3 separate regions of the Homo sapiens genome follow, and regions 2 and 3 are each linked to region 1. Evidence: fine-mapped expression QTL. A gene starts in region 1. Each other region holds a variant in brackets. All regions are shown on one strand. Distances are from middle to middle.

Region 1 (9,873 bases):
TGGAAGCCTTTGTCCATTATATTACTCAATGTCCTTTAGTAAGGAACCAGGCAATACATGCTTCCTAGAATTTAGTATAAGGAACATGTCTCACTTTTAGATCAAACTTGGAATTTTTTTTTTTTATCAAACAATGCAAACTATATGTTGTCATGAACTTTTAGAGCTTAGAAGGGCCTTTAGAAATCAACTAACCCAGCATTTTCTGAAGTGCGCTTTAGGTGTTATGAAGAAAAAAAGAATTTTATGAGCAAACAAGTTTCTTTCTTTAACAACTTTATTGAGCTACAATTTGTATACCATGAAATTAACCCTTTTAATATGTACAATTCAGTTGTTTTTAGTATATTCACAGAGTTGTGTAGCCATCACCACTATCTAATTTTAGAACATTTTCATTACTCCCAAAAGAAACTTCATACTCATTAGCAATCACTGCCATTCCCCCAGCAAAAAAGTTTCTTGTTTTTTTTTTTGTTGTTTGTTTGTTTGTTTTACCACAGGAATCCTTGGACCCTTTATTGTGAATCTAATGTGTTTTGTGAATTTATAAGACAGGGTACCATCTGCAGTATTTCCCGAACATACTTAATAGCTAATATTTCACTGCTTACTACGCTAAATGCTGGACATGTATTACCTCGATTCTCATAATAAAATCTGTGAGGTACCATTTATAATAAATGTGGCTATTTGAGCACAAAAAGATTAAAGCTAAGTAATTTGCTCAATGTTCTTAACCACTCCACTGTACTACCTCCTGCAGAACTGACTGGTTGTGGGAGGAGAATGGACAACTAGTATTTCATAATTTTGTAAGTGTTTCAGTTCAATCTCTTTTAATTTAACAGGGAGAAAAATGGGGCCCAGGAAAGTAATCTGATTTAGCCAAGAATACACAGCATTTTCTCTTTTATTCTTTGGGATAGTTTACAGCTAAATTTGAAACCTAGCTATAGTTAATACCCCTGTTGGAACTGACTTTGATTTTTTTTTGAGACAGGGTCTCACTTCCGAGGGCAGTGGCATATCACTGCAGCCTCAACTTCCCGGGGCTCGAGCAATCCTCGTATCTCAGCCTCGCGGGTAGCTGGAACAACAGGCATACACCACCATGCCCGGCTAATTTTTGTATTTTTAGTAGAAACGGGGTTTCACTATGTTAAGCAGGATGGCCTCGAACTCCTGGGCTCAAGGGATCCGCCCGCCTCCACCTCCCAAAGTGCTGGGATTACAGGGGAGAGCCTACCGCACCCGGCTGACTTTGCTTTTTTTTTTTTTTTTTTTAAGGTGTCTCTGCCTGTCTCCCTGTAAGCAATGCACTTCACCACTTTTGCATGCACACGTCCTAGCCATCTTTCAATGTCTAGTACAGCTAGGGGGAATCACTCCACTTTCCACTCATCCTAGGTCGATGTCCTCTCTCCCTCTGTGCACTCATACATGGCCCTTCATTTCCTCTGGACATTTCTGCCTTGAATTCGAGTTACTTCAATCTCCTGCTGTACCCCATCTCCTACCGAGAGAGCTTTTGGACGGAAGGAGTCGGCGTGCACTCAAAAGGCCAGCAAGCGGGAAGCAATCAATAAGCACTTAACAGTTTCCTATCCATCCTTGGTTTAGTTCTTGTAGAGCAAGAATTTCTCTCCTCAAGCCTGCCAGCCCCCGGGGGACAGGGTTTACTGATTTTTAATGTCTCCTGCCCGAGTCCAGGACCCACCACGCGGGCTGTGGGGACCGTCAGTGCTCACCGCCACCAAGGTCGTTATGAACCAAGTGCGGGTCAAGTAACAAGTAACAATAACTAACTAGGGCCGCGGTAGGGCGGCTGCGTATCCGAAATCCCATCTAAACCTCGCGACGATCCTGGGCGGGGGCATCGCACCCTTTTCTGACAAGCAGCAGAGGCAAGCGAAGGGGTCAGTGCCGAAGAGGGGGCCCGTGTCGGTGGGTGACAGACCAAGGCCTCAAACCCGAGTCACCGCCCAGAAGATCTTGGGGCGGAGAGAGTTCCTCACTCGCCCCGCCTCGGCACCAGCCTCTGGAGCGCTGAGACCTGGGGTCCCGGGGTCGCCGGACGTGGGCAGGGTCTGGGGGTCGCGCGCACCCCCGCCCCCTGCCCCGCGCCATCTTGGAGCGCTGTGGCGGCCGCTCCCGACAGCTTCGAACCGTTGCTCTGGAGGTTACTCACCCGCACTGCCCGGAGCCAGGCCCCCTGCCACCTCCGCGACCCCCGCCACGGCCAGCAGAAGGAGCAGCGCACCTCGCAGAGAGGCCCGGACGGTCGCCATGTCCGGGCCGGGCGGCTCCAGAGCCGCGGGATGCTCGGACCCAGCTTGGCCGCAGCCGCTGCCGCCGCTACCGCCGCCGCTCGCGCGAGGCCCCGCCCCCAGCGCCCGGCCCTTTGGTGACTGGCTGCGGCCCGCTCAAGCCCCGCCCCCTGCCTCACAGTGTTTCCAAAACCTCCCGGGGGCGGGAACGTGCCCCGTACCAGGGCTCTTTGTTATGGCCCAACTGTGTGTCGGCTTCTGCCAGGAGTCCACCAGCCCACGTTCTCCCAGAGTGAAGTCAGAGGATGTCAGAGCTGGGAGAGTCATTAGAAAACCTCTGCCACCTCCTGAGGTTTCGGGCCACTGAGGTGAGAGAGGAGACTGACCTTACTCAAGATCACACTGCAAGTTCACCTGAGAACAAGGGCTTAGTCCAAGGCCGAACCAAAGGGGCTTCTCTCCTTCATGTACCCTCAGTAATACTCGCAATATTCTTTCTGCCGAGACGCTGCCTCGCACCCAAAGAAAGCATGTCACCCGGGATCCTTCGGCCTCCCGCAGACACGGCCCCCTGACAAGGGTTCATCACTAGAGCTCTTTGGCACTATAGCCTCAATGTGTCTTTGTTGTACTTTAAAAATTATTTATTTATTTATTTAGGCAAGAGTCGCTCTGTCGCCCAAGCTGGGGTGCAGTGGCGCGATCTCGGCTCACTGCAACCTCCGCCTCCCGGGCTCAAGCGATCCTCCCACCTCAGCCTCCTGAATAGCTGGGACCACGGGCGCAGGTGACCACGCCTGGCTAATTTTTATATTTTTTTTGCAGAGAAGGGGTTTCACCATATTTCTCAAGCTGGTCTCGAACTCCTCGCCTCAAGCAATCCCCCAGCCTCCTCCTCCCAAAGTACGGGGATTGCAGGCGTGAGCCACTGTGCCTGGCCTTGATGTTACTATTAAGCACCTATTCCTGATAGGAAAAGAGGATAGGAGAACGCTTGTATACCTAGATGTGGAAAGCCTTGAATATCCGGCTGAGAAGTATAGACTTTGTCCAAGAGACAAGTTGGAAGTGGGTCCCACCCCACCCATCAGCCCAGCAGCTACGTGGAGAATGTTTAAGCCACTGGCTAGCAAAGCTAATTCATTGTCTCTTTTTTTCTCTGTGTGTTCCTGAATTAAACCCTTTTTCCTCCTTTTTTGAAAAAGCATGACCACCGTTTTAAATTCTCATGAAGACACCTGGGGCTAAATTACTTAAAACATTTTTAAAATTCCTTAATATTATTAAATATCCAGTCATTATTTACATTTTTCTTATTGTCTCATGATTTCTTTTTACAATTTTTCAAGTTCTAAACAAAATCCATATATTAAAGTTGGTTTTTATGTTTTTGGGCTCTTACATTTATCCTCTCTTTCGAGTTTACAAAAGGAAAACATGAATAAGTTAAAATATCTAAAACATCTCCTCTGATGACTCTGTTGCTTCTGTGTACAAGGTAAACTGAGGCACAATAAAATTTTAAAGTTTACTTCAGCACGCGGTGATTCATGAATTGAGAAGCTGCAAACCAGAAGTGGTTCTGGGGCTCAGCTCTGTCGAAGAAGCAGATTTTTACAGAGTGAATGGGAAAGTAATAAAAAGAAAATATTTGATTGGTTACAGTTATAAAGTTGCCTTATTTGGTCTATCCCACTAAAAAGCCTCTAGTTATACAAGTTTGTGGACTACTTCTGATTGGTTGAGCTTGTTCTGTTTTTCTTTAATATATGCATTTACAAGAAATAGCTCAGATTAACTCAAGTAAGTTTAAGGTCACTTATGAGGACTAAATTGACTATCTGCTCAGGAATTCTGCAGACCTGGTCTTCATTTTAATTTATTTTAACAATTCCCCTCTGAGAGTAATAGTACCACTATTGACACAGTCACTGGGCCAAAGAGTCATGATGCTATCATTATTAACAGTTGCGGCTGGGCGCAGTTGCTCATGCCTGTAATTCCAGCACTTTGGGAGGCCAAGGTGGGAGGATAACTTCAGCCCAGGAGTTTGAGGCCAGCCCAGGCAACGTTGTCAGACCCCCATCTCAATTAAAAGAAAAAAAAAAATAAGTAGTTACATTGGGATGTAGAATCACATGTAGGCTTTGGCAGTTGGGGTAAGTTCTTCAAGTTGTCTAATCCTGATGGCAATCATTTGATGTGTGGCTGCTGGAAAGCATTAAAACTCTTGACAGGGGCTGGGCGCGGTGGCTCATGCCTGTAATCCCAGCACTTTGGAAGGCCAAGGTGGGTGGATCATGAGGTCAGGAGTTCAAGACTAGCCTGGCCAACATGGTGAAACCCTGTATCTACTAAAAATACAAAAATTAGCCAGGTGTGGTGGCGCGTGCCTATAGTCCCAGCTACTCAGGAGGTTGAGGCAGGAGGTTGAGGCAAAGTAGACCTTATTTTTTAGAGCCGTTTTAAGTTGACAGCAAAACTGAGTGGAAAGTACAGAAGGTAGACAGTCCCTGCCCCCACATATGTAAACCTCCCCCCACTGTCAGCATCCTGCACCAGAATGGTACATTTGTTACAATTGATGAGCCTACATTGACACATCATCAACCAAAGTCCATAGTTCACATTAGGATTCACTCTTGGTGTTGTACATTCTGTGGGTTTAGACGAAGGTGTAATAACATGTATCTACTCTTATTTTTTTTATTTTTTAAGATGTAGCTATCAGAAAACTTAAAATTACACGTGTGAGCCCAAAGTGAACCACAAATGTAATTATGTTTTTCCTGAGACAGGGTGTCCTTCTGTTGCCCAGGATGGAGAGCAGTGGCACAGTCCTGGGGCACTGCAGCCTTGAACTCCTGGCCTGCAGTGATCCTCCCACCTCAGCTGCCTGAATAGCTGGAACTACAGGTGCATGCCATCATGCCCAGCTAATTATTTTATTTTATTTTTTGTAGAGATGTGGTCTTGCTATGTTTCCCATTCTGTTCTCAAACTCCTGGACTCAAGCAATGCTCCCGCCTCGGCCTCTCAAGCTGTTGAGACTACAGGCATGAGCCACCATGCCCAGCCCCAATATGCAATTTTAAGCACTGTAAGAGTAGTGTAATTATCTTTCATTCTAAAAAAAGGTTAATGCTTAGAGATGAGTACGATATTTTAAAGAATGTTACTCACCAATGATTTTGTTTTGAGCCAAAAAACCATGGTTCTCAAGGTCTTGCACCTTTCCTCCTCTTCTTCTATCTCTGACTTCAGTTCCTACTGTTTCTGTCGTGTCCAGCCATCACCTCCAGCCAATCTTGCTCAGGGCCTTTCCCTAACTGCTCCATGTAACTCCTGCCTCAGGACCTCTGTGCTTGGAGTTCTTTCTGCTTGGAATTAATTTCTCCCAGATAGTTGTACACTCTCCCTTTTCTTTTTTAGGTCTTAACTCAAACGGCCTTCCTTAATTGCCCTTCTTAAAATTAAAACTCAACCCCACCTCTGAACTTCTTCTCCCCTTTCACACTTTATATTTTCAAAAGCCATGATTACCTTCTACCATATTAATAGGTTCTAATATATAATATTATAAAATATACTACTTACTTTCCCAAAGTGTTGCTTGTTTATTATTTGTTTCCTTACTTCATGAGGGCAGATATTTTTGTCTGAGACTACAGACTATCCTTATTTCTTTTATACATACACACACACACACACACACAAACTTTTTTTTTTTTTTAAATGAGACAGGGTCTTGCTCTGTCACCCAGGCTGGAGTGCAGTGGCATGATCACAGTTCACTGAAGCCTCAACCTCCCAGGTTTAAGTGATCCTCTCGCCTCAGCCTCTTGAGTAGCTGGGACAACAGGTGTGTGCCACCATGCCCAGCTAATTTTTTTGATTTTTTGTAGAGACGAGGTCTCACTATGTTGCCCAGGCTGGTCTCGAACTCCTGGGCTCAAGTGATCTTTCTGTCTCGGCCTTCCAAAGTGCTGGGATTGTAGCTGTGAGCCACCATTCCTGGCCAAATATCCTCATTTCTTAATTGCTTCCTGCAGCAGAGCCTGAATCTGTTTCAGAAAGAGAAACTTTTAAAATTAAGAATATGGCAGATGTTTAAGTAGTTTTAATTAAATAGGAGTATTGTTTTTTAGAACTTTTGCATAGTAAATTTCTAAAGCCAATCTTTAATGGAAATACTTTTTCTGACTTTGTTTAGCCTGAACATATTTGATCATGATTAATTGACCTAGCTTAATAAGGAAGAGGTCCATTTTGAGTTAGTTAACTAAGACTTTATGGCATCTGATTTCATATGTGTACAGTAGGACAATTTTGTGAAATATTAATGTATTTTCTGTTCCCAGTAATTCCTTCATTAGAACTAAAACATGAGGGCAAGGCATTCACATCTTCAGAGATGATCATTAGAGTAGAAAAATAGTCAAAGAGGACAACTCCTAGCTTTTGGTTTTAAAAAACATACACTTAAAATTTCAGGCAGAGACAATGGCTTTAAAGAGAAAAAGCCTTTGAAATATCAGAACGTGGTCTATTTTATAGCTGAGAGCATAAAATATTTGTATGAAGAACAGACATGGAAGAATACTATGATTAGTCAGACACAGTCCCTCCTACCCCCTCAGTCCCCAGCAATTTGATTCACTCTGATGTGGAAGGAGGAGAGCCACTGGAGGAAAAGAAGGCGTCTCTGGTCTCCTTCTTCTGATGCAGTGGGGTGGGACATAGAATCCCCAGAAAGGCTTGAGACTACGAGATAAGAGGGGATCTGATTCTCCTTGCTGTGTGGAGCTCAGGAAATGACAGACCTCATAAAATTCATCTGCACTTAACACGATGTAGGTATAGAGTAGAAATGGCTGCAAATGTGTCCTGTTTCATGCTCCACACAGAAGAGCAGCCAAATGTTTTTTTGCCCCTCAAGAGATGCAAGGTAGGAGACAGCTGAGAGCCTGAAGCGACCTCAAGATTGGAATGAGGAGGCTGTATCTGTTATTTGAATCATCTGTACAAATGGATACCAGATGAGAATGCAGATGTCAACAGGGATTGATGATGATGACTGAGGACCACATGTCCTGTCTTCTTCTCCAGTCCCAGTTGCTGGCTTTGGCTCTATATAGACCTCTCAAAGCTGGGGAGGGGTTTGTGAGAGGCCTTGACTAAACTGAGATCCCACTGAACTTACTGAGATTTAGTTTTAGTCATTCGGCAGGAAGGGGATATGCAGAGTCAACTAACTGTCCATTGAAGATTTGATCACCCCTTCTAGAAGTGGTTGCTTGAAAGCAACTACCAGCCAGAGACATTTTCCAATTGCTAGTGTGTCATGTTCACTGTTAATTTAATAACTGGGAGTAAGGCCTTGGAGAACGAAGGGTCCCTGTGCCTCGGAGCAGAATTGGCATATCTAACATCCACACTGATGCCTACAGTAAGATCTAAGAGGAGGAAGAAAAGCCCTACTCCTAGGCATCCAACACCCACGTTATGAAATTCAGCATTGAGACCTCAGCCTATGATGCTGGTACAATATCCTGCCAGCCTCCAATAAGCCCTCTAAAGACGTAAGCCTGTGAATATAAAATTTCCACCCCCCCATTCTTTACTCTCTTTGGCAGTTTATTTTAGTAATTTTTGAACTTAAAACTATTATTTTTTATTTTTTAACTATAGAATCATTCCTTTCCCAAAAAAATCTTAGAGTTCTGCTATATAAACAAGAAAAAAGTTGTGTTGTATTGCTACACTTATTTTATAAGTTCAAATTTATAGCAATTATGTAGTTCAAAGTCAGTGAATGAGAGTTCAAAGACAGTGAATGAGAATTCAAAGACAGTGAGTAAGATTTTGATAAATATAAAAACTTGAATTCTGGAATTATGGATGACTGTTGCAGTCACACATGTTCCAGCTTCCGATTTATTTAACGCATTTTCTTTTTGTTGCCTGCTATAGAGAAAATCCTGATTCATAGAGATGAGTACCTTGCCAAGGGTCACCGTTTTTGAAATAACTTAACTTGCAATCCCACACAACTCTTTATTTAAATTAAGATGGTATCCTGAAAATGAAGCACTGAGAAATTTCTGTTTAAATATTGGTTCATGAAAACTTATGTCCACATAAAAACTTGCACATGGATATTTATAGCAGCTTTAGTCCTAATTGCCAAAACTTGGAAGCAACCAAGATGTCCTTTAGTAGGTGAATGGAGGAAAAAAAGACAACAACTTTGGTGCATCCAGACTGTGGAATATTATTCAGTGCTAAAAAGAAATGAGCTATTAAGTCATGAAAAGACATGAAGGAACTTTAAATGCATACTACTATGTGAAAGAAGCCAATCTGAAAAGGCTCCATACTTTATGATTACAAATATATGACATTCTGGAAAAGGTAAAACAATAAAGACGGTAAAATGATTAGTGTTTGCCTGGGGTTGGGGGAAGGGAAGGATGAAAGGCAGAGCACAGAGGATTTTTTAGGGCAGTGAAACTAATCTGCATGATACTGCAATGGTAGATACATGTCATTATACACTTGTCAAAACCCATAGAATGTATTCTATGGGTACACCATAGAGTAATGTATACACCAAGAGTAAACCCCAATGCAAATGACGGATTTTGGGTGATGATGTGTTGATGTAGGTTAACCAATTGAGACAAATGTACTACTCTGGTTGATAGTGGGGGAGGTTGTGCATATGTGAGGACAGAGGATGTGTGGGAGCCCACTGTACTTTCCACTCAAGTGTGAACCAGAGTGTGCTAAAAAAGTTTATTAATTTAAAAAATGTTAGATGTTAAAAATCTGAAAAAACTGATTCACTAATATGACAGCTGCTCAAATTTCTTATCACACATTGAAAAGAACCAAAGATGTAGCAACCAAGACTTATGTTTAATCTCGATGCTATTTATAAGGTAGTAGCAACCAAAATTTGTGGTTAATCCTCATACTATTTATAATGCACATTATTTTTGTGTGACATGTTCTCTTGTTATTGTGCAATTGGCTATGATGCCATAAAAAGAACATGCACCAAGCAGATGATTCATAGCCTTGCCCAACACTTAATTGAGAACAGCACATATTTGTACTTCTTTGTATAATTTTACATGAGCTATGTGCATAGGCTTGGATTAAAGAAAGATCATTCCACATCTGAATCTATTCTAGTAATAAACAGAGAAAAGAGAAAAGATAAGTGCAGAGCCACACTTTTTTCGAATCAAGGACATTTAAAGAAGATTGCACAGAGATGGCAGGAAAATAATTATTCCAAGTTCTAATCAAAAGTGAGTCAATTCGACAGGACACATGTTAATGTGGTAGTAGCTTCTAGCATGTCAAAAATTGAAAAACAGAACACATTCGTGTATGTCCACTGTCTTGCATATTAAAAGTTATTTAGAATAGCTATATTTTTAAAGAAACTCAAATTAACTACTTGTGGGATGTGACGGACCTCCACTGGGGAAAAATTAGATTCTTGTTTAATCAGGTTATATTATTCCAGAGTTTTGTATAATGTATGTTTCAACATATCTATTTTAATTCTGATACCTTCTTTCTCTCCCAG
Region 2 (9,560 bases), 200 kb after region 1:
GGGTGGGAGGCAGGAAATGAAAGAAAGAAAGAAAAGAACTGTCACTCTTCACCGATAAAACAAATAGATTCCCTATACTGACACATTCAACAAAGTGGTTCCAGGTCAGGGGCCACAGGTGAGAGATCAGCTCAAGCACTTGCACAGTCATACAGTAGTCCGGAAGTGGTCATGTGACAGAGGTCATGGCCCTCACTCAGTCACACTTCAATCTGGACGCGGGTTGGGGTCAGGGTCGGGAGGTCAGTTAAAGTCACACTTTAGTCTGGAAAGTGGTCAGGGATTGGAAGTGGGGTTGGGAAATTAACTCAGACACTCACACAGTCACACTTTGGTCTGGGCAGTGGTCCCCAAAAGTTCCCCCTTGCTCCTTGAAGATGATGAGGTTCCAAACAGCCAGGAATGTGTCCTCAGGAACATGGAAGTGGAAGAGCTCGGTGCTGGCAAAGGAGCGGAAAGGACTCAGCTTGCGGGGTGAGCAGGTGGAGTAATCAGTCAGGAAAAGGCCTCCTGGGAAGCAGGAGAGAGAGAAAGGAGCAGGGCAGGACAGAGGGCATTTCCATTAAGCAACAGGCATGCCAGTCTTCCTCACCAATAGCATCAACTCCACAAATGCTCTCCTCTGAGCCAGGAACTGGGTTTCAGGCTGCAGATCTGAAACCTAGCCATCATCTGGTTTAATCCTTACGTTAATCTTATTTAAAAAAAAACAAAAACAAAAACAAAAAAACCCTCCTTTTACAGATAAGGAAACTGAGGCTCAAACCTAGACCAAACTGAGGATGCAAACCTAGCTCTCTCTAAATCCAAAACTAAGACCCTTTGACTTCACAGCTGCCTCCTCACTTAGGAGCCATTTTCTCCACTTACCAAACCTAAAAAAAACAGATGTGTGGAAGGTGTGTGTGTGTGTGTGTGTGTGTGTGTGTGTGTGTGTGTATTTTGGCATGGCGTCTTAAGCCACTGAGCAGGCTGAAACTCCACCTGTGGGGCTTGGGAGTCAGCATGGAACTGTGTAACTTCCTTGTTGATTTTCTTCCCCTTTCTGTTCCCCTGTGGTTAGGAGCAGTAAAAACCCTCAGCAGCCTCACAAGCGCTGCCTGTATACTGGCTCAGGGCAGGAGAGGGGAGGGGAAAGTGTGGTACGGCTGCCAGGGGCCTGCTTGGGTGGCAAAAGCAAGGACAGGAGCTGGCAGGCCACCATGAGAGTCCCCAGGAAAGGAGAGTCATCAGGCCTCCCAGGTCAGAATGCACAGCTAGTAGGTGGGGGCCGGGGGAATGTTCCCCCAAAGGGAAGCCCAGTGAGGCAGTGAGTTAGTGACCCAGTGGATTTCAAGCCCCTTGGGAATATTCAGAGCAGGCCGAGTTGGGAGGTGGGGAGGAAGTGGTCATCCCTCATTAAAATGCCAAGATACCTGATCATGATTGTCAGGAGCAGAGCCAAGGTGAGCAGAAGTTGTGTCAGCAGCTAGCCAGGCAAGGGACTAGAATAGCTGTCACAGTGGAGGCAACCAGTAGCAGACAGGGGAAGAGGGTCCCAAATGGCAGGCAAGGTCTCTCAAAGTAAACCTCTAGGGAATCTGACTGCTCTGGAGACTTCGGACCAGCCAGAAAAGAAGCCCAAGATGACACCTCCAGGACAGGTGAGAAGGTGGGGAACTCAGCAGCTTCAGGACAGACCCGGGGCTGGAATAAGGACTACTCTGGAGGGGCATTTTCAGCCAAGCAGGAAATACCCTCAGGGCTAACCTAGTCCAATCATCTCCCTCTCTGGAGATGGGAGAGATTAACTCCAAAAATGAGGTGTTTTTGAAATAACAAAGAAAGGGAAGGGGAGGCTGCTGAAGGACGAACACTGAACCAGAGCAACCCCAGGAGTCACCCCAGAGAGCTGCCCTACATAGGTGGGGGCCATTGGAGGCCACGGTTACACTCAAGGACTAGTCTGTCCAGTTCAGACCACATGATCAGTCTCAACTGTCAGGAAGGAAAACCTGTCACCTTGCAAGCTGAGCACTGCCTAGGAACCCAGAGAGGCTACCAGTGCAGCATTCAGAGAGTGATAGAGATGCAGCCGAGAGGGATAAAGGGAAATGGGACCGACTGATGGAAGAGACGGGTTTCCTAGGAACCCTAGCTGTGCTAAGTAGGAGGCAGAAGGCTAAGAGGTGAACAGCCTGGATACTATTGTTAGAAGAAATCAGAACTCTAGCGCACCTTCTGCTGGGGTTAGGGAAGGGCTGATCCTCCTCAAAGCTGGTACCAGGGATGGGTCATCTGATCAACCATTGCTACCGTTAGGAGAAATGTTGGTCAGTCCCTCGGTGCAGACCCTCAGATGAGGGCTAGTGGTGAAAAGCAGTTTAATGACCTTTGGGAAACATGGACAGACAAGCACAAAGATCCTTGTAATTCAAAGGATCACAGTATGGCCTGGGGAACTGGGGAACTAGCTAAGCCATCCCCACAGTGGCCAGGGGCTACAGAGGTCACAGAATAGGCCAGTGAGATAAAGGAGTGAGCAGCAGCTGGGAATGCTAGGAGGAACTTGGAAGAAGTTCTGAGGGCAGATGCTTGAGAAAGGGTCCACAGCCCCATTCACTCCAAACTTTGGTTTGCGGTTTGAACAGGGCCTACCAGAGCTGTGTCCAGAAGAAGCATGAGTAAGGCCCTTACCGAGTTCAGATGAACTTATTCCAGGTTCCCCAATATTTCTATGATGAAGCTAGGGTAATTCCGACCATCACCCACCCCATACACACATACACATACACACACACACACACACACACACACACAC[ACC/C]CCTACACCTACACACATAGGCTGAGGCTGGCCCTGCTAGTAATAGCACTAGGTAGAATAAAAGCCCATTTTTTTTTGAATAGCAAGGCACGTGTGAGTCCTCAACTAAGCCCAAGGAAAAGATCCAAGGATCAGGAGTGGGACCACTAGACCCAAGAGATAACTTCCATTCCTGAAATGAAACCGAAGCAACCAATAAGCACTGTGCAGCCCTGTGCCATGATGGTCCTATGACACTGCCAGCCTCTCCTCAGACAAAACCCATCACCACCATTAGGTCACAGAGCACCCTGTACTTTGGTCCAAAATTGCCAAGGCATTCATTATTAACAGCACTAAAGGCAGCCCTGCCTCCATTTGGGTGTATTGGTACTCTTTTCCAACTTCATTACAATTCTCCCCAAAGCACCTGAACCTGCTTCTGGGCAACAGTGTTTTTATCCACAACTTTCAGCTGTATATGCTCTGTGGCTGTCGGTCACCCTGCTCCCCTCACCAGCCCAATGCTTGCTCAATGGGCACATGAAGAAGCCATGATGGCAGAGGATGGAAGCTAGGAACTTGGCCCAACAGCATAAACTTCCCCTTACCAAAACTGAAAACCTGACTGGCTACTGCCTCTGCCCAGTGTCCAATTTGCCAGCAGCAGTAATCAACACAGAGTGCCTCCACAGCTCCTTCCTTCAAAGGCACTGGCTGGGGATGGATGGATAACTTATATTCGTTATGGGAGGCATGCAACACTGCCCTCACCCTTGGAACTGCTGAGAAAGGGTCTCCAGCCCCATTCACAGCTTCAGTGATCTGTCCATATGAGGAGGAGGCAGAGCTGAAGAGGAATGTACATGGGCCACAACATGTCCCCTCCCCTTCATACCATAACACAGGCGCTCAGAAGATACACTGGCTCACATGCACCCCACACACATGCACGTGTCTACACTTAACAACACACAAGCATGTACACATGCTGCCAGCCTCCCCACAATCCCTCAGTTACACACATACACATAAGTGACCAGACATCTCTGCAGGGGTTGTGACCTTTCACGTGCATTCGTCTCCTTAAGTTTGTACACTGAACCAGGCCCCCAGAGCTCACTGATACCCATTCTCCACCCCCCAGCTGTTCTGTTGGCTGTTATTTCCAAAGACTCCATCAGGCACATCTCCATCCTATCTAGAGTGACACCCACCAGAGGTGGCTACAGACTTGGGCCATGAAGACTACAGTCACTCCATGATGGAGCCATCTTCATGGCACATCCCCTAGACCAGGACACCCCCTCCTCCTCCCACATTCCAACCATTAAAAAATTGGACCTCTCTCTCTTCTGTCCAAGTCACTTCCCCACCGGAGGGTGGCCCTTGGCTGACGCCTGGCAAATAAGGAACAGTTTGTGGATAAAGCACCCTTGTGGGCAGACCGGGGAGAAGGGAGGTTATGCTTTGAGCCTTTCCCCACTTGGGTCTATTTTTCTATTAAGTATACATTGCAGTGGATAAAAAAAAACACACTAGTATGAAATAGGAATTAGGAAACCTTTTTTCTAGCCCCAGCACACTGCCATTCACAAGCTCTCTGACTTTGGACAAATTGCTCCCTCCCTGAGCCTCAGTTTCCCCATCTGTAAAATAGCCTCCGAGTTTCAGCCCTGCTCTAAAAGTATCAGGAATTATTCCTAGGCAAATCAATCTTCTTTGGAACAAGAATCATTACAAGAAGAAAACTCATTATAATGGCAACTAATCCATATTCATCTATTTGCTACATATTATCTTTAAAACTCTTCTTCATGCCGTTTGAATGCATGCCCAATATCTCAAAGGTTTGGGCTATATATTCCCACACTACACTAGGGGCTTCTGGTGTGGGACTGTCTCTCCCCCATCAAACTTTGTGAGCAGGAGCAAAGCCCACAACATTTCCCTGGAAAAGCAAGAGTCAAAGTGGGGTCAGGACAGACACCAGAAAAAATCTTGGAGTCTCTGTGCTAGAAACTGTAAGCCACCTGCTGAGCCTCAAACCCAATTAATTACCACTCTTTTGACCCTGCCAATCCCTGTTGTGTAAGACCTCTCTACTCTCTATTTCTCCCACTTGCTCCCCAATGATCTAGTTCCCCAGGTCCCACCTCTCCTGAATCTCTCCAGCCCACCCCTCCCTGCCGGAACCCCATTCCTGCCTCAATCTTCCCTGCTTCTGCACTCACCAGCCCCTGGGCCAAGGACAGAGAACAGCAACAGCAGCAATAGGGCTGGCGGCAGCTGAAACCCAGACTTGAGTCTAGGCTGGGAGAGGGGCAGAGTATGAGAGATAGGGGGGACTAGAGGGAGAGACTTGGGTAAACACAGAGATGAGGGCAAAGGCTGAGATAATGGGTTGGGCTGGGCTGGACACTGGGGCTTGAACAAGGGCAGGGAGTGGGATGGAAGGAAGGGCTGTGATGGGGACTGCAGCAAGGGACGGGGTTGAGCCAGGGCCTTAAGCAAACACTGGGAATGGGGCTGGGACAGGGCCTGGGCTGGGATTTGTGACAGGGGGTGGAACGAGGGCCGAGGCCGGGATGGGGGCCAGGCCAGGGGCAGAGACTGGAAGGGGGTCCTGGATGGGGACCCAGGCAGGGGCTGGGGCCGATGTGGGAAGCGGGGCGAGGGCGGGGCTGGGGGCCAAGGCGGGGATTGGGATAGGACGAGGGGCCGGGACAAGGGCTGGGCCATGGCCCGGGGCGGGGGCGGGGCCGGACAGGCCAGCGCGGGGCGCTCGCAGAGCTGGCCCGCGGCTCCGCTCCCCACCCCCGGGGGGTGGCCTCCGGTGTCCTCGCGGGCCCGGGGCGGGGGCCGGGGACCTGGGTAGGAGTTCAGGCCTGGGCGACTCCGGGCTGCGCTGAACCGGCGATAACCAGGCCCCGCGGCGGCGGCCTCGACTTGACGTCGGCGTGACGCCCCGCCCCCCGGCCGGCTCGATTGGTCCCTGTCAGTAAAGCCCGCCCCCGCCCTACTCTATTGGTCCCCAACTTAGTCCTGCTGGGCTTCGAGGACACACAGACTCCGCCCCCGCCTCAGCTACCCGAGACCCTGCCTTTCTCACCCCAAGCACAGAGCCCGAGGTCCCCTCAGATCCTCACAGCCCCCAACGACCGCCCCACAGATGTCTCAAAGGAACCCTATCCTCACAATCCCAGACTCCCCCGGACGTACGCACAGATCTCCGCAGATCCTACCCAAACACTCGCTCACAGAGATCCCGCAACACACACCCCACTTTTCAGAAGTAAACCCTCTGGGCTCGCCCCCTCGAGGCCCAATGCAAGCCCCTCAGGAGACCTTACCCACCGGGGAGGTGACCAGACCGCCGTTGCCACGGAGACTACTAGGCGTTCCGGTTGCCCTGGTGACCGGCGCCTACTCTCCTGGCCCGGGTTCCGGAGGCTTCAGTCAAGACCCTCCCTCATTGGCCCTAGACCCCTTGTCCCTACCCACTTCCCCAGGTCATGCCAGAGCTCCTTTGCGAAGTTCTGCAGATATCCAAGTCCCCTTCCCAGATAGCAGACTTTCAGGCAAGGCATTTCAACACTCAGCACCTGCAGCTGAGGCACATCCACAACCAAGAGCCTTTCCTCCCTGAGGATCAACACCTCCCCCTGCCATCCTAAGTCAAGGTCTTGACCTAAGGACTTGTAACAACCAAGCCAAAGCCCAGAGGGTAGGTGGTTTCTCCAACGGCCCTTGCCCTCTTCCCTCAAAGACATCTGTCTTTCTCCCACCCCTCAGTCCCTTCACATTGTTGTAGTAGTAGTAGTAGTAGTAGTAGTAGTAGTAGTAGTAGTAGTAGTTGTTGTTGTTGTTGTTGTTGTTGTTGTTGTTGTTGTTGTTTGAGACAGAGTCTCGCTCTGTCCCCCAGGCTGGAGTGCAGTGGTGCGATCTGGGCTCACTGCAACCTCCGCCTCCCAGGTTCAAGTGATTTGCTTGCTTCAGCCTCCCCAGTAGCTGGGACTACAGGCGCCTGCCACCATGCCCAGCTAATTTTTGTATTTTTAGTAGAGACTGGGTTTCACCATGTTGGCCAGGCTGGTCTCGAACTCCTGACCTCAAGTGATCCACCCGCCTTGGCCTCCCAAATTCTGGGATTACTGGCATGAGCCACCATGCCTGGCCCACATTCTGTACTTTTCATCCTTACTCTCCTCCTCCACCCAATTTCCTCCTCCCCTTCTCTTTCCCCTTCCTCACCTCCCATCTTCTGGTTCTCCACTCTTAGGCCCCTTTTCTCTCTAGCTGACTCTGGTCATCTTCCTCCCTGTAATCCTACCTCTGCCCCTAATTCCCTTCCCAAACATCCCCTTCAAAAAGGCTCTGATGCATTTAAGGAGTGATATATCTAGCGTCTCTGGAACATGGGGGTAAAGTAGGGAGCACGGAAAGTTAAGGCAGGAATCCTCAGGCTGTGTTGAAAATGATGACAGGCCTTGAATGCCAGGGCCAAGAAATTTGGACTTAATCCTTTAGACTGAGTCATGGAATGTTTTTAAGCCACAAAGTGCCAGTTGTTGGGCTTGCACTTTAGAAAGATCCTGATTGGGTCAGGAAGGAGGACTACATCCTTGCAGGATAAATTAGGTATATCCCCCTCCCCACCGTATCCTAGACTCACCCCAGAACAACATCAATTTATTTGTATTGCCATTGTTGGTTAATCGGTCTCTCTCCTAGACTCAACTCAATCTAGAGCTTAGCACAGCGGGTCAGTAAAAGCATCAGATTAGGCTCATTGTAAAAGTATAAGTTACATAAATCCATGAAAGAATGGGTGAATGGATTAAAATGCTGTGGATGGAAGTAGAGGGGCAAAGTTATTACACAAAGGCTGAAGATGATGAGAACTTGAATAAAATTGGAAGGGAGAGGAGAGAATGCATTTGGGGAATATTTAGAAGATAGGAAATAGAGTTATTGGTGCCTATTTGAAGATGGAGTCTAAGGGAAAAGGAAAAGACTAGGATAATTCCCAAAGTTCAGTTTTGCTGTCTGTGGAAACACTCAGTTAGAAATGACCAGCAGGGGCCAAGCACGGTGGCTCACTCCTGTAATCTCAGCACTTTGGGAGGCCAAGCAGGGCAGATCACCTGAGGTCAGGAGTTCAAGACCAGCCTGACCAACATGGTGAAACCCCGTCTCTACTAAAAATATAAAACTTAGCCGGGCATGGTGGCACACGCCTGTAATTCCAGCTACTTGGGAGGCTGAGGCAGGAGAATCACTTGAACCCGGGAGGCGGAGGTTGCAGTGAACCGAGATTGCGCCACTGCACTCCAGTCTGGGCAACAGAGCGAGACTCCATCACAAAAAGAGAAGAGAAGAGAAGGCCAGCAGGCAGGTGGGTATGAGTGTGAAGTACAGAGGTTGAAAAAGGTCTGAGCTAGAAATGTGAATTTAGGAGTCATTGGTACACAACTGGAAGTAGTTAAAGCTTTGAACATGAATGACATCATTAAGGGAGGAGGATGTGTGTGGTGCCTAGACAAAACCAGGCTGCGTGCAGTGTCTTGCCTTATGTGACAGCATTCCCCTGCACTCTCAGGAGCCAACCCCAACTTTGGCTTGGTATTGCCAGTCTCTAGAACTCCATGGTCTGACCTCCAGGGTTTTAAGATATGCCAAGGACCCTGCTCTTGGACTGCCCAAGTGGTGTTGTTCAGACTCCCTCCTGGGACATGGTTCTCTGCTACCATCTACTGATGGGATTCGAACTACTTCAGTCTTTCAATCTTTAAGTTCCAGCTCCCTAACAAGCCACAGCAGCATGCCATATGAGGTCTGGACACATGGGTGAACCTTTTGGCATCACACTCTAGGACCCAGAGTTCATGTTGTTTCCCTCTTATATCTCAGCTGCACTGATATCCTTATCCAAATTCCATAATGCACTGCGAACCCTGGGCTCTGCCCTGACTTGCCGGCCCTCTATTTCCAACCTAATGAAGCCTGTACCCTGTTCTACCACTAGATGGAAGCACATGAGATCATAGAAGAGCCTCATATCACCATGGATGCAGAGAAGCACCCCCCTTCAAAGGACCCCTCTGCTGAGGACTTACAGGAGAACCATATCTCTGAAAGCTTCTTGAAGCCTTCCACCTCTGAGACCCCGTTAGAGCCCCATACCTCTGAATCCCCTTTGGTGCCATCCCCTTCCCAGATCCCCTTAGAGGCCCATTCCCCTGAAACCCATCAGGAGCCTTCCATCTCTGAGACTCCTTCAGAGACCCCTACCTATGAGGCTTCATTGGATAGTCCCATCTCAGTGGTGCCAGAGAAACACCTTACTCTTCCTCCCCAATCACGAGACTATGTCTGTCTGTCTTCTTCTGATACTCTGAAGGAAGACCTCTCCTCTGAGTCTTCTTCCAATGAGGTCCCATGGACAAGGAGGTCTACCCATCTCTCTGAATCTGAGAGCCTTCCAGAACACTGTCTTTCAGGCCCTTCATCCCAGGTCCAAGTGGACACAACCGAAAAGCAGGAGGAAGAAGCAGGAGAGGTTGAAAAGGGAGTAGATGCCAGTGACAGCACTGCTCACACAGCCCAACCTGGACACCAACTAGGCAAGAAGAAGAAGAAGAAAGGAGTTAGCTGTAATTGTACCTGTCCTCTCCCCTGTCCTGTTCTCACTACTATTCACTGTCCTTGACTTGCCCCAGGAGGAGGAGACTGGGTTACTCTTGGACATGGCCCCTTCTCTTAGTTTTAGGGCCTTC
Region 3 (10,279 bases), 39 kb after region 1:
GCAGTGTGAGAATGGACCAGTACAGTCTCTTTCAATCTACATTTCCCCCTCCCTTTTTCTATCTTTCCCTCTACCTCTGTTCCTGCCGCCACCACCCTGCTTTTAGGCTAGATTTTTTTTTTGGAAGGAATAGTTTCTCAATATGGAAAACTATAAAGTTTACCACAGTCTGATTTTGCTGATTGCAATTCTGTGGTGTCTGTCTTTGTGTTTCCCATACATTGATGCCTAGATCTAGTTACTTAATTTTTTTTTTTTTACTGGAGTTATGAGCTCATGGCTCCTGAGACCTTTTGCATGACGCTAGTATCTTTGATGACTTCCTGCTATCTGATATGTCAAGATATTACAAGCTCAATATTCACTCTTCCTTCCCAGACCTGAAACAACTATTTTGTCTAACGAGCTCTTTTTTCGTTTAATGGGGAATGGTATTTAGAAGTCATAATCTGGGTGCTAGGTTTACTATTGAGTTTCCCATGGTTTCTAAATGTTTCAGTGGAAAGAGCTATGAAAAAATATATATAATTGAATTATATGTATGTATGATATATAAATATATATTTAGATTTAGATCAAATATATAAATCATACATACAGACAGACAATTCAAATTAAGAGCTATGGATTTTTTACCTAATCTCATTGATTTTATACCTGTATCTCCTTCTTCTATGTACTGTCTCCTCATTCCAGAAATGTTTGGAGATGGCTTGAAGTTATACACACATAATGATGTCAGGAGTTAACATTGAGCACACCTTCTGTAAAGAGCAGAATTCAATCAAGTCATCCAGTGGTGTGTGTCTGGGAGTACTGGGGCTGACCATAACAGTTGAGGTGATGATGTGGGCTGTAGGCCCTTTTCTCTCGCTTGTTCCTGAGCTTCCTGCAGGAGATCTGAGTCTGGGAGTGAGGCATTGGGTGGCAGTGGGCTAGGAAAGAGTTGCAAGATAAATTCAAGCCTGGAAAGAAAGATTCCAGACTGGAACCTCAGGGCATCTTGCAGCTTGGGAATGATTTTCCTAAATCTTGATGAGGGCAGTCACAAGCCCCTGCTCACCAGGGCACTTTGGCAAAGAAGGGGACATGATGCAGACAAGAAGGAAGCTGGCAGATCACCTCTAAATGGCGTCCAAATTCCTGAATTCTGCATGCCTGCTCTGTTCAAAATAGATGTTTCCAATATGTAAGAGCCACTTAGAAAAAAGAGGTTTGTTAAATATTTGGAAGGATGGAGTCACAGTCAAAAACTACATATCTGGGGTCCATGGTTGCCAACATTTTAATATCATGCTTCCTTACAATTTAAACTGTATTTGTTTATTGATTTATAATATATACCTATATACTTATAGGTATATATTATATACTTATAGGTATATATTATAATACCTATATACTTATATTATAATAATATATTATATATATAATATATATTATATAAATATATATATATAATATATATAATAGGTATATATTATAATACCTATATATTTATAGGTATTCTACTGTACCAATATGTTATGGACATTTACAATGTTTACAAAAATAGAAGTTCAAAAAGATAGGACAAAGATAAAATTTTTTTTAAAAAAAGAGCAAACATGGGACAAAATCAGAAGAAAATGAGGGTAGGCCACAGATTCATTCATTCATTTATTCAGCATCTATGTATTGAGAGTCAGTTGTGAGTGAAGCCCTATTTTTATACTAAGGAAACATCTGTGAACAATACAGAAAAAAACTTACCTCTGTGAAACTTGTATTCTAACAGGAGAGAAATAAGCAATAAACAATTACAAAAATAAATAGGATGTTAGAAATTTTATGGAATCAAGACTGCATAAAGGATAACTGAACACATGCATCTAATTTCATTCCTCCTAAAACCCATGAAAACTATAGTCTTTCTTTCTTTCCAATAAAATCTACAAGGTTAAGCAGAAGAAGTAAGATATCAACAGCAAGAACATTGTGAAAGTTAGGAAGCAGATGAACTAGTGCTAATTGCCATAGCAGATCTGACAGAGCCAAATCCCAAGCCAGAAACTTGGAAAAGTAAGTGTCTTACTCCATTTTCTGCTGCTTTAACAGAATATTTGAGACTGGGTAATTTATAAATAATAGACATTTATTTGGCTCACAGTTCTGGAGGCTGTGAAGTCCAAGAGCATGACACTGGCATCTAGTGAAGGCCTTCGTGTTGCATCATCCATGGCAGAAGGTGAAAGAGCAAGCAAGTACATGAAACAAGGAGAGAAAGGAGGCCAAACTCCTGCAATAACTCACTCCTGCAATAATGGCATTAACCCCTTCATGAAGGCTGAGCCCTCTTGGCTTAATCACCTCTTAAAGGTCCCATCTCTCAGCACTGTTACCATGGCAGTTAAATTTCACCATGAGTTTTTGAGGGGATATTCAAACCACAGTAATTGATAACAACTAGATTTGTAGCACAGAGAAACTCACTGTACCAAGTACCTCTAGGACCGGGGTGAAGGAAGTACTACTAAAAAAGGAAGACTAGGTGACAAATGTATAAGAAACAGAGTCCCTACACCCCTTCATTCATTCCATGACATTAGTCAACTATCTCTTGCCTACCCCAACAAAACTTTTATTCTCTGGAGGGTAAAATCATGGCTCTCTGGACTGGCAGACAACAGCCACAGTTGAGAGTATGGGTACTTTACTCTTTCATGGAGTAAAAAAACAATTAGCATAAAAGATCAGGAATCAAAATGGCTTCTGATTGCACCAGAATTACCTTCAAATTCAGAGGGAAGATGATTTCCAATAAGTTCCTAGAATTCCACACACTACTGTGTTGATTAACTTTATGTGTCAACTTGACTGGGTCATGGGGTGCCCAGATATTGGGTCAAATATTATTCTGGATATGTCTGTGAGGGAGAACCTGGATGAGATTAATATTTGAATGCATAGATGGAGTAAAGCAGATTATCCTCCCTAATGTACTAAGCCTCATTCAATCAGTGAAAGTCTTGAATAGAACAAAAAGGATGAGTAAGAGGGAACTTCTCCTGCCTTTGAGCTGGGACATTAGTTTTTTCATCAGCTCTCCTGGGCCACCAGCCTGCTGACTGCAAATCTTGGGACTTGTCAGCCTCCATAATCAGATAAGCCAGTTCCTTATAACACGTACACACACACACACACACACACACACACACACACACACTATTAGTACTGTTTCTCTCAAGAACCCTGGCTAATACACCCACCAAATTATCACTCAGGAGGTTAAATAAAAATATGTTCAGACACATAAGATCTCAAAAATGTGTATATAATACACTTTTTCTCAAGAAGTTATTCAAGGCTGAGTGAATGGCTTATGCCTGTAATCCCAGCACTTTGGGAAGCTGAGGTGGGTGGATCATCTGAGGTCAGGAGTTCAGGACCAGCCTGGTGCCCATGGCAAAACCCCACCTCTACTAAAAATACAAAAGTTAGCTGGGTGTGGTGGCATGCGCCTGTAATCCCAGCTGCTCAGAAGGCTGAGGCAGGAGAATCACTTGAACCATGGAGGCGGAGGTTGCAGTGAGCCAAGATTGCGCCATTGCACTCCAGCCTGGGTGACGGAATGAGATTCCATCTCAAAAAAAAAAAAGAAGTTATTCAAGAAAGTGCTCTATCAAAATAAGAGAATAAACCAAGAAATAGAAAGAAACTGACAAAAGAAACAGAAGTTCCAACCCATAAGAGAGGTGTAAGGAGTCCCCAGGACAGTAAAAGGAGATCCTGGCATGACAGTTGTACACCCTGCAGAGAAGACAGCCAGCCCAGAGGGCAGCCCTATGACTCCAGAGACAGGCATGTCAAGGGCTCTTATTCATAGACCCCTGCTGCCTATGGTGATTAACTTGAGGACAGAATGCCCCAGACAGCCTGGCCCACATTCTTTCCTGCACTGGCCTTATCTTGGCCATGCATGTATAAAATGCCCTCTTCTCTCTCCATGTCTTGCTGACTGGGTTAGTAGAGGACACTCATTCCACTCCAGAGAGTATTCTGCTTTGATCTATTCCCAAGAGTGGGAAGAGGGCCATACTCAGAGCTTAGAAGCAGAAAACATAAAACAATCCACTCTCTCTGATGATATTTCTGCCAGATGTCTGGTACCTGGCCACACTGCAGCACTGTCTGACTTACCCGGAAGGGACTATTGAAACTGAGAGCTTAGATTCTCAGGAGAGTCTTCCCCAAAACAGTGACAATATTTTTTTTTCATCAAAAAGCTAGATTTGCCAGTCAGAATGACTATTATTAAAAAGTCAAAAAATAACAGATGTTAGTGAGGGTGAGAAAAAAGGGAAACATTTGTACATTGTTGGTGGGAAGGCAAGTCAGTGCAACCTCAATGGAAAACAGGATTGAGATTTCTCAAAGAACTAAAAATAGAACTACCACTCAATCTACTTTTTTACAGAATTAATTCTTTTTTTTTTTTCTGAGACAGAATTTTGCTTGTATTGCCCAGGCTGGAGTGCAATGGCGCAATCTCTACTCACTGCAACCTCCACCTCCTGGGTTCAAGTGATTCTCCTGTCTTAGCCTCCCGAGTAGCTGGGATTACAGGCATGCGCCACCACGCTTGGCTAATTTTTGTGTTTTTAGTAGAGATGGGGTTTCACCATTACATAATTAATTCTTTTCCTTTATGTAGATACCACTACTGGGTATCTACATAAAGGAAAAGAATTAATTACGTAAAAAAAGATACCCACACTGGTACATTTATTGCAGCATTATTCACAACAGCAAAGATGGAATAAATCTAAGCATCTATAGATAGATGATTGGATAAAGAAAATGTCATCTACGTACACAATGGAGTACTCTTTGGACATAGAAACGAAGGCAACCATGTATTTTGCAGCAACATGGATGGAACTGGCCATGTTGGATGTCCAGTCTCTTAAGTTATGCAGCCCGGAAACAGAAAGTCAAATACCAGTGTGTCCACATGGACATAAAGTGTGGAATAATTGACATTGGATACTAGGAAGTGTGGGATGGTGAGGGGGGCTGAGGGAGGAGAAGTTACTTAATTGGCATAATGTACATTATTTTGGGTGATGGTTGCACTAAAAACCCAGACTTCACCACAACTCAGTATATCTGTGTAACAAAACTTCACTTGTACCCCTTAAATGTATTGTTTTAAAAAGCTAGGTTTGTAATTGTCACTCCATTTTTCAAAATGGAACAATTCATTGTACACCAATACATTGTAGAAGGTAAAACTGTGAAGGAAATAAAGGGAATATATATTAGCTTTCTCTTGTTGCATAATAAACCACCCCAATATCAGCAGCTTAAAACACCTAATTATTAGCTCACAGTTCTGGAAGTGAGAAGGTTGGGTGAGTTAGGCTGGGCTCTGAGAAAAAGTCAAGTTCATTG[G/A]TATTGGTGGCAGAATTCAATTCCTTGTGTTTTTTAGACTATGGTCCCAGTTTCCTTGCTGGCTGTCACCAGGGCTCATGCTTAGCTCCTTGTGGCAGCTCTCTGGTTCTTGTTTGCGGCTCCCTCCATCTTATAATCAAGAAACAGCATGTGGAATTCTTCCCACACTTTGAATCTGGCTTCTCCTTCTGCTACTAACCAGAGAAAACTGTTTTTAAAGGGCTCACTTGATTAGTTAGGTCAGACCTCGCTGGATAATCTTCTAATCTTAAAGACAACTGATTTGGAGCTTTAGTTACATTGACAAAATCCCTTCACAGCAGTACCTAGGTTAATGTTTGATCACCACACGAAGGGAATTATGTGATCATATGGGGATCATGAAGATTCTGCCTACCACAAAATGATTTCCATAGAAGTCAAAATAGTGGTCACTTCTGGAAGGGAGGGAATAAGGAAATTTAATTGGATAGGGAAATAAGAGGGGCTTCTAAGGTTCTGGAACATCCTAATTTTAACCTGGGTTGGGGGGGGGGACATGGTAGTATACTTTCTTATTTTTCCTTAAATGGTATACATATGCTTTTTACATTCTTTTGTGTGTGTAATATATCTCACAAAAAGAAAAAAATTCAATGCAAGACAAAATGGCTTATGACTACGAATGTGGCATGTATTTGATTCTAGGATTTTTAGAGCTAGTGTATGTATAAGGCAGGCATGTTCCTTTGTGAAAGAGGTGGTTAGGATTGCCCAAGTGTTTTTGCTAACACTGGGCAGGCTCTTCTTGCACACCAAGAACATCTGTGGAATGAGAGCTCATCATATGTGCCACCTACCATCTCCGGTATTCAAATTAAATGGGAAAGGGAAAACTGGAATGTGATTAAGAAACTATAGTGTATCAGAAAACAGTGGTCCACATTGAAGATGCTTCTGGCTGCTGCTTGGGCAGTCACAGCTCTCAGCTTTGGATCTTAGAAGTGGAGGTTACCAGATCCCAGTGGTAAATCAGCGATGCTCTCACAAATGCACAGATATAGTATACTCATGCACACACACACAGGAAAAGACTGAGCTGTTCGCAACAGGACACCACTTCCGTGATCAACTGTTCTTTTTTAAGTCCACAGCTGCCTTGCCTCTGAAACTCTCTGGTAGAAGCCATGACCAGATTCACTTATGACCCTTTAAAGGTCTGGTCTGGGTAGGGTATGCCTAGCAGAACCTATTTGGTGGGATGCAGACAAGAGATCTTCTGGGTCACTGGCTTTCATACAAACCTGAGATCCTGAACCCTTTGAATTTGTAAATGGCCAAGGGGACTAACCCACAAGGATTCGTCCTGTGTGGTTTCCTATTCCCCCAGATCTATCATGGACTCTGGTGACAGTTCTCATGGACTGGGGGTTCTTGTTAATTTGGGGAGGGCCAGGATGATCCTTCCGCTCTAATACTTTCCAATAGCCCAGCAAAATGGGTAGGAAGAGAGGGAAGGAGAGAAGAAAGTATTTCTGGAGAGACTTCAGAGTAATTGGATCATGGGGACACAATCCCAGATGTATAAGAAGTTTCTTGACTTGGTAACTTGAATTTCCAAACTTTAAATGACTTTGGGGACTAGAATACTCCAAATAGCAGGATGGGATTTAAGTGGCTTTGTATGAGCAATGATTAGTCTTTTGTGGATTTTACCAAAACACAGAACAAAGACAAGAAAACGTCCACCCATTTCAGGCACTAACTCATCTGGCTGCTGCTTTCTGACCAGATTGGCTATTTTTGGCTTCTGGACTACTCCCAGATCCCAGAGAAGTAATTTGAATCAACACATTTGTTGAAAAGGTAAGCGAGCACTTTTAAAAGAATATAGAAACTCTTGTGGGCCCAGCTCCATCCCCGGTAGCATACCTGGTGACTAAGTGGCATGGGGGAATTTTGAAGGAAATAGAAAAGGATGTCTCCATGGTGCAACAGTCCAAGAATGAGAAATTCATGAGATCATTTAGTCCCTGGGATGGAATATCTCTGATAATAATCTATTCCAAAGTAAGCATCCAGGAAATGAAGTTCAGAGAAGAAAAAGGACTTCACGATGCCCATGCATTGATTGGTTGGCAAATGCCAGTCCTGTAAATATGTGCTCCAGAAGAGTCTGGCAAGTGAGTGAGTGAATGAATGGGTGGACAAATAGCCCAGGGTTCTGTAGATCTTGGAAGTGCTAGTAAAGAGGAGGCAGAGAGCATCTGAAATTGCTCACAGGCCGGGTGCCATGGCTCACGCCTGTAATCCCAGCATTTTGGGAGGCCAGGGTGGTAGGATTGCTTGAGCCCAGGAATTTAAGCCCAGCCTGGGCAACAAAGTGAGACCTCGTCTCCAGAAAAAATTAAAAATTAGCCAGGTGTAGTGGCATACGCATGTGGTCCCAGCTACCTGGGAGACTGAGGCAGGAGGATTGCTTGAGCCTGGAGTTTGAGTCTGCAACGAGCTGTATTTGCCCTACTGCACTCCAGCCTAGGTAATGGAGTAAGACTCTGTCTCAAATAATAATAATAATAATTTTTAAAAGTGCTCACAGAGCAGAATGGTCAGGGATTGAGGATGAGGAGTACCAGTTTTTTCTACCAGTCCTAGGTCCCAAGGGGAAAAAACATACAAATGGAATATAACATTTCTTGCCAAAATTGAACCAAATGAATCATCCACACATGTAACTTGAAGTAAATGTGTGATGCCTGTCTTAAATGTGATGAGGAAAATTAAATCTAATCAGGTGACATTTGAAACCTCTCTATGGGGTGGCCAAATACCACCAAGTAGATTTTGATCAAATTTCCTGCATTTTACTTAAAGCAATATCGAGAAACCTTTGAATTGTCAGAGCTGTTCTCCAATTGCTCAGCAAGTCTGGGCTTCCTCACTGGCTGTCTGGGCACTTTAGGCATCAGAGAATCATGGAGCTGGCCCTCTGAGTTTGTACAAGTGACATAGAAACACCATGGTCAGTTCCAATCAGACCTCCCCTGTGCTGGGGTTCCTTCTCCTGGGGCTCTCTGCCCATCCAAAGCTGGAGAAGACATTCTTCGTGCTCATCCTGCTGATGTACCTGGTGATCCTACTGGGCAATGGGGTCCTCATCCTGGTGACCATCCTTGACTCCCGCCTGGACACACCCATGTACTTCTTCCTGGGGAACCTCTCCTTCCTGGACATCTGCTATACAACCTCCTCATCCTTGACAGCTTCCTGACCCCCAGGAAAACCATCTCCTTCTCAGCCTGTGCAGTACAGATGTTCCTCTCCCTTGCCATGGGAGCCACAGAGTGTGTTCTCCTGAGCATGATGGCGTTTGATCGCTACGTGGCCATCTGCAACCCCCTTTGGTACCCTGAAGTCATGAACAAAGCTACTTATGTGCCCATGGCTGCTGGCTCCTGGGTAGCTGGAAGCCTCACTGCCATGGTGCAGACACCCCTTGCATTGAGGCTGCCCTTCTGTGGAGACAACATCATCAATCACTTCACCTGTGAGATTCTGGCTGTCCTGAAGTTGGCCTGTGCTGATATCTCTGTCAATGTGATCAGTATGGGAGTGGCCAATGTGATCTTCCTGGGGGTCCCTGTTCTGTTCATCTCTTTCTCCTATGTCTTCATCATTGCCACCATCCTGAGGATCCCCTCAGCTGAGGGGAGGAAAAAGGCCTTCTCCACCTGCTCTGCCCACCTCACTGTCGTGATCGTCTTCTACGGGACCATCCTCTTCATGTACGGGAAGCCCAAGTCTAAGGACCCACTGGGAGCAGACAAACAGGACCTTGCAGACAAACTCATTTCCCTTTTCTATGGGGTGGTGACCCCCATGCTCAACCCCATCATCTACAGCCTGAGGAACAAGGAAGTGAAGGCTGCTGTGAGGAACCTGGTATTTCAGAAACGCTTCCTGCAGTGATGGTGGAGGGGTCCTGATGGCTCTGTGCTTCCTGACTGCTCCCACCTGAGAGTCCCAGAGGACAAGATGAAAGACCAAGTTGATCAAAGGTTACATGGGTAAATCTCATTACACAGAATCTCATTACATAGAAGGGCTCTGTAGGAACAGGACACATTTAATGCAACTCCACCAAAGTATGTTCTTGTTTGTCTAGCCTCGTAGTTCTCATTCTCCATGATGGATACTGAATGAATTGATGTCAAGGAAAAGTAACTCTTCACATTTTTATTGTTGGATGAATGAAAAGCTCTAGTCTGTAGGTCTTTGATTCAATTGCTCCACGGCTTCTTTCTTTGAACATATTTGGCTGCTGCTTTCTGACCAGATTGGCTATTTTTGGCTTCTGGACTACTCCCAGATCCCAGAGAAGTAATTTGAATCAACACATTTGTTGAAAAGGTAAGCGAGCACTTTTAAAAGAATATAGAAACTCTTGTGGGTCCTTACTTTTATGTTACCTTTCAAGATCTTCCTACTCCATATTACATAATAGTTAGTTTTATTTTTCTCCTCATTGTTTTTTTTCTGGTTGTCATATAAATTCTTAAAACTGTTTGCTGAATTTTTCTGTCTCTGTATCTTCATAAATTAACCTGTAGCTTTGTCTCTCTCTTGTCCTTACTCAGAGTCCTCACCAGAAAATCATTAATGCTCTTGGAGAAGAGAGGGGAGTAAGGAAGGTGTGACAAAACTGATGCAAGGGTCAAGGGCACAATCCTCTTTTCTTTTTCTTTTGGAAGATATTGTTCATTCCTGGGCTCTGTCCTAGATACCAGTGGCCTCTCATGAGCCATCAGAGTAATGCGAAAACTGAGATAAGTCCAGGAGGATCAAATAAATTGTATTAATCACCTGA

Which allele goes with the higher level. Positions count from the first base shown, and alleles are read on the strand shown. Sizes are in standard deviations (SD) of each study's normalised expression. Not every link is listed here.
For the expression in lymphoblastoid cells of the gene that starts at base 2,377 in region 1, G is the high allele of the variant in region 3 and A is the other (large effect, 1.5 SD a copy in TwinsUK).

What was found.
Region 2: its variant is fine-mapped to the expression of RECK in whole blood (INTERVAL, PIP 0.94).
Region 3: its variant is fine-mapped to the expression of RECK in lymphoblastoid cells (TwinsUK, PIP 0.92).

Annotation. Positions count from the first base shown.
Region 1 is chr9:36,029,417-36,039,289 of GRCh38, reverse strand. It overlaps RECK (reversion inducing cysteine rich protein with kazal motifs), which reads right to left and starts at 2,377. Exons shown (of 21, transcript NM_021111.3): 1 at 2,192-2,377. The coding sequence starts at 2,291. RefSeq lists silencers at 2,098-2,247, 2,258-2,457.
Region 2 is chr9:35,825,411-35,834,970 of GRCh38, reverse strand. TMEM8B (transmembrane protein 8B) reads right to left here and starts at 5,743. Exons shown (of 13, transcript NM_001042590.4): 1 at 5,016-5,743; 2 at 321-510. The coding sequence starts at 5,523. FAM221B (family with sequence similarity 221 member B) reads left to right here and starts at 6,239. Exons shown (of 7, transcript NM_001012446.4): 1 at 6,239-6,508; 2 at 8,810-9,407. The coding sequence starts at 8,810. RefSeq lists enhancers at 4,651-5,151, 8,515-8,874 and a silencer at 5,437-5,886. The variant ACC/C (reference allele first, on the strand shown) is at 2,801.
Region 3 is chr9:35,990,438-36,000,716 of GRCh38, reverse strand. It overlaps the pseudogene OR13C6P. Among named protein-coding and RNA genes, the nearest start is that of OR2S2, 37 kb to the right of the region's middle. The variant G/A (reference allele first, on the strand shown) is at 5,434.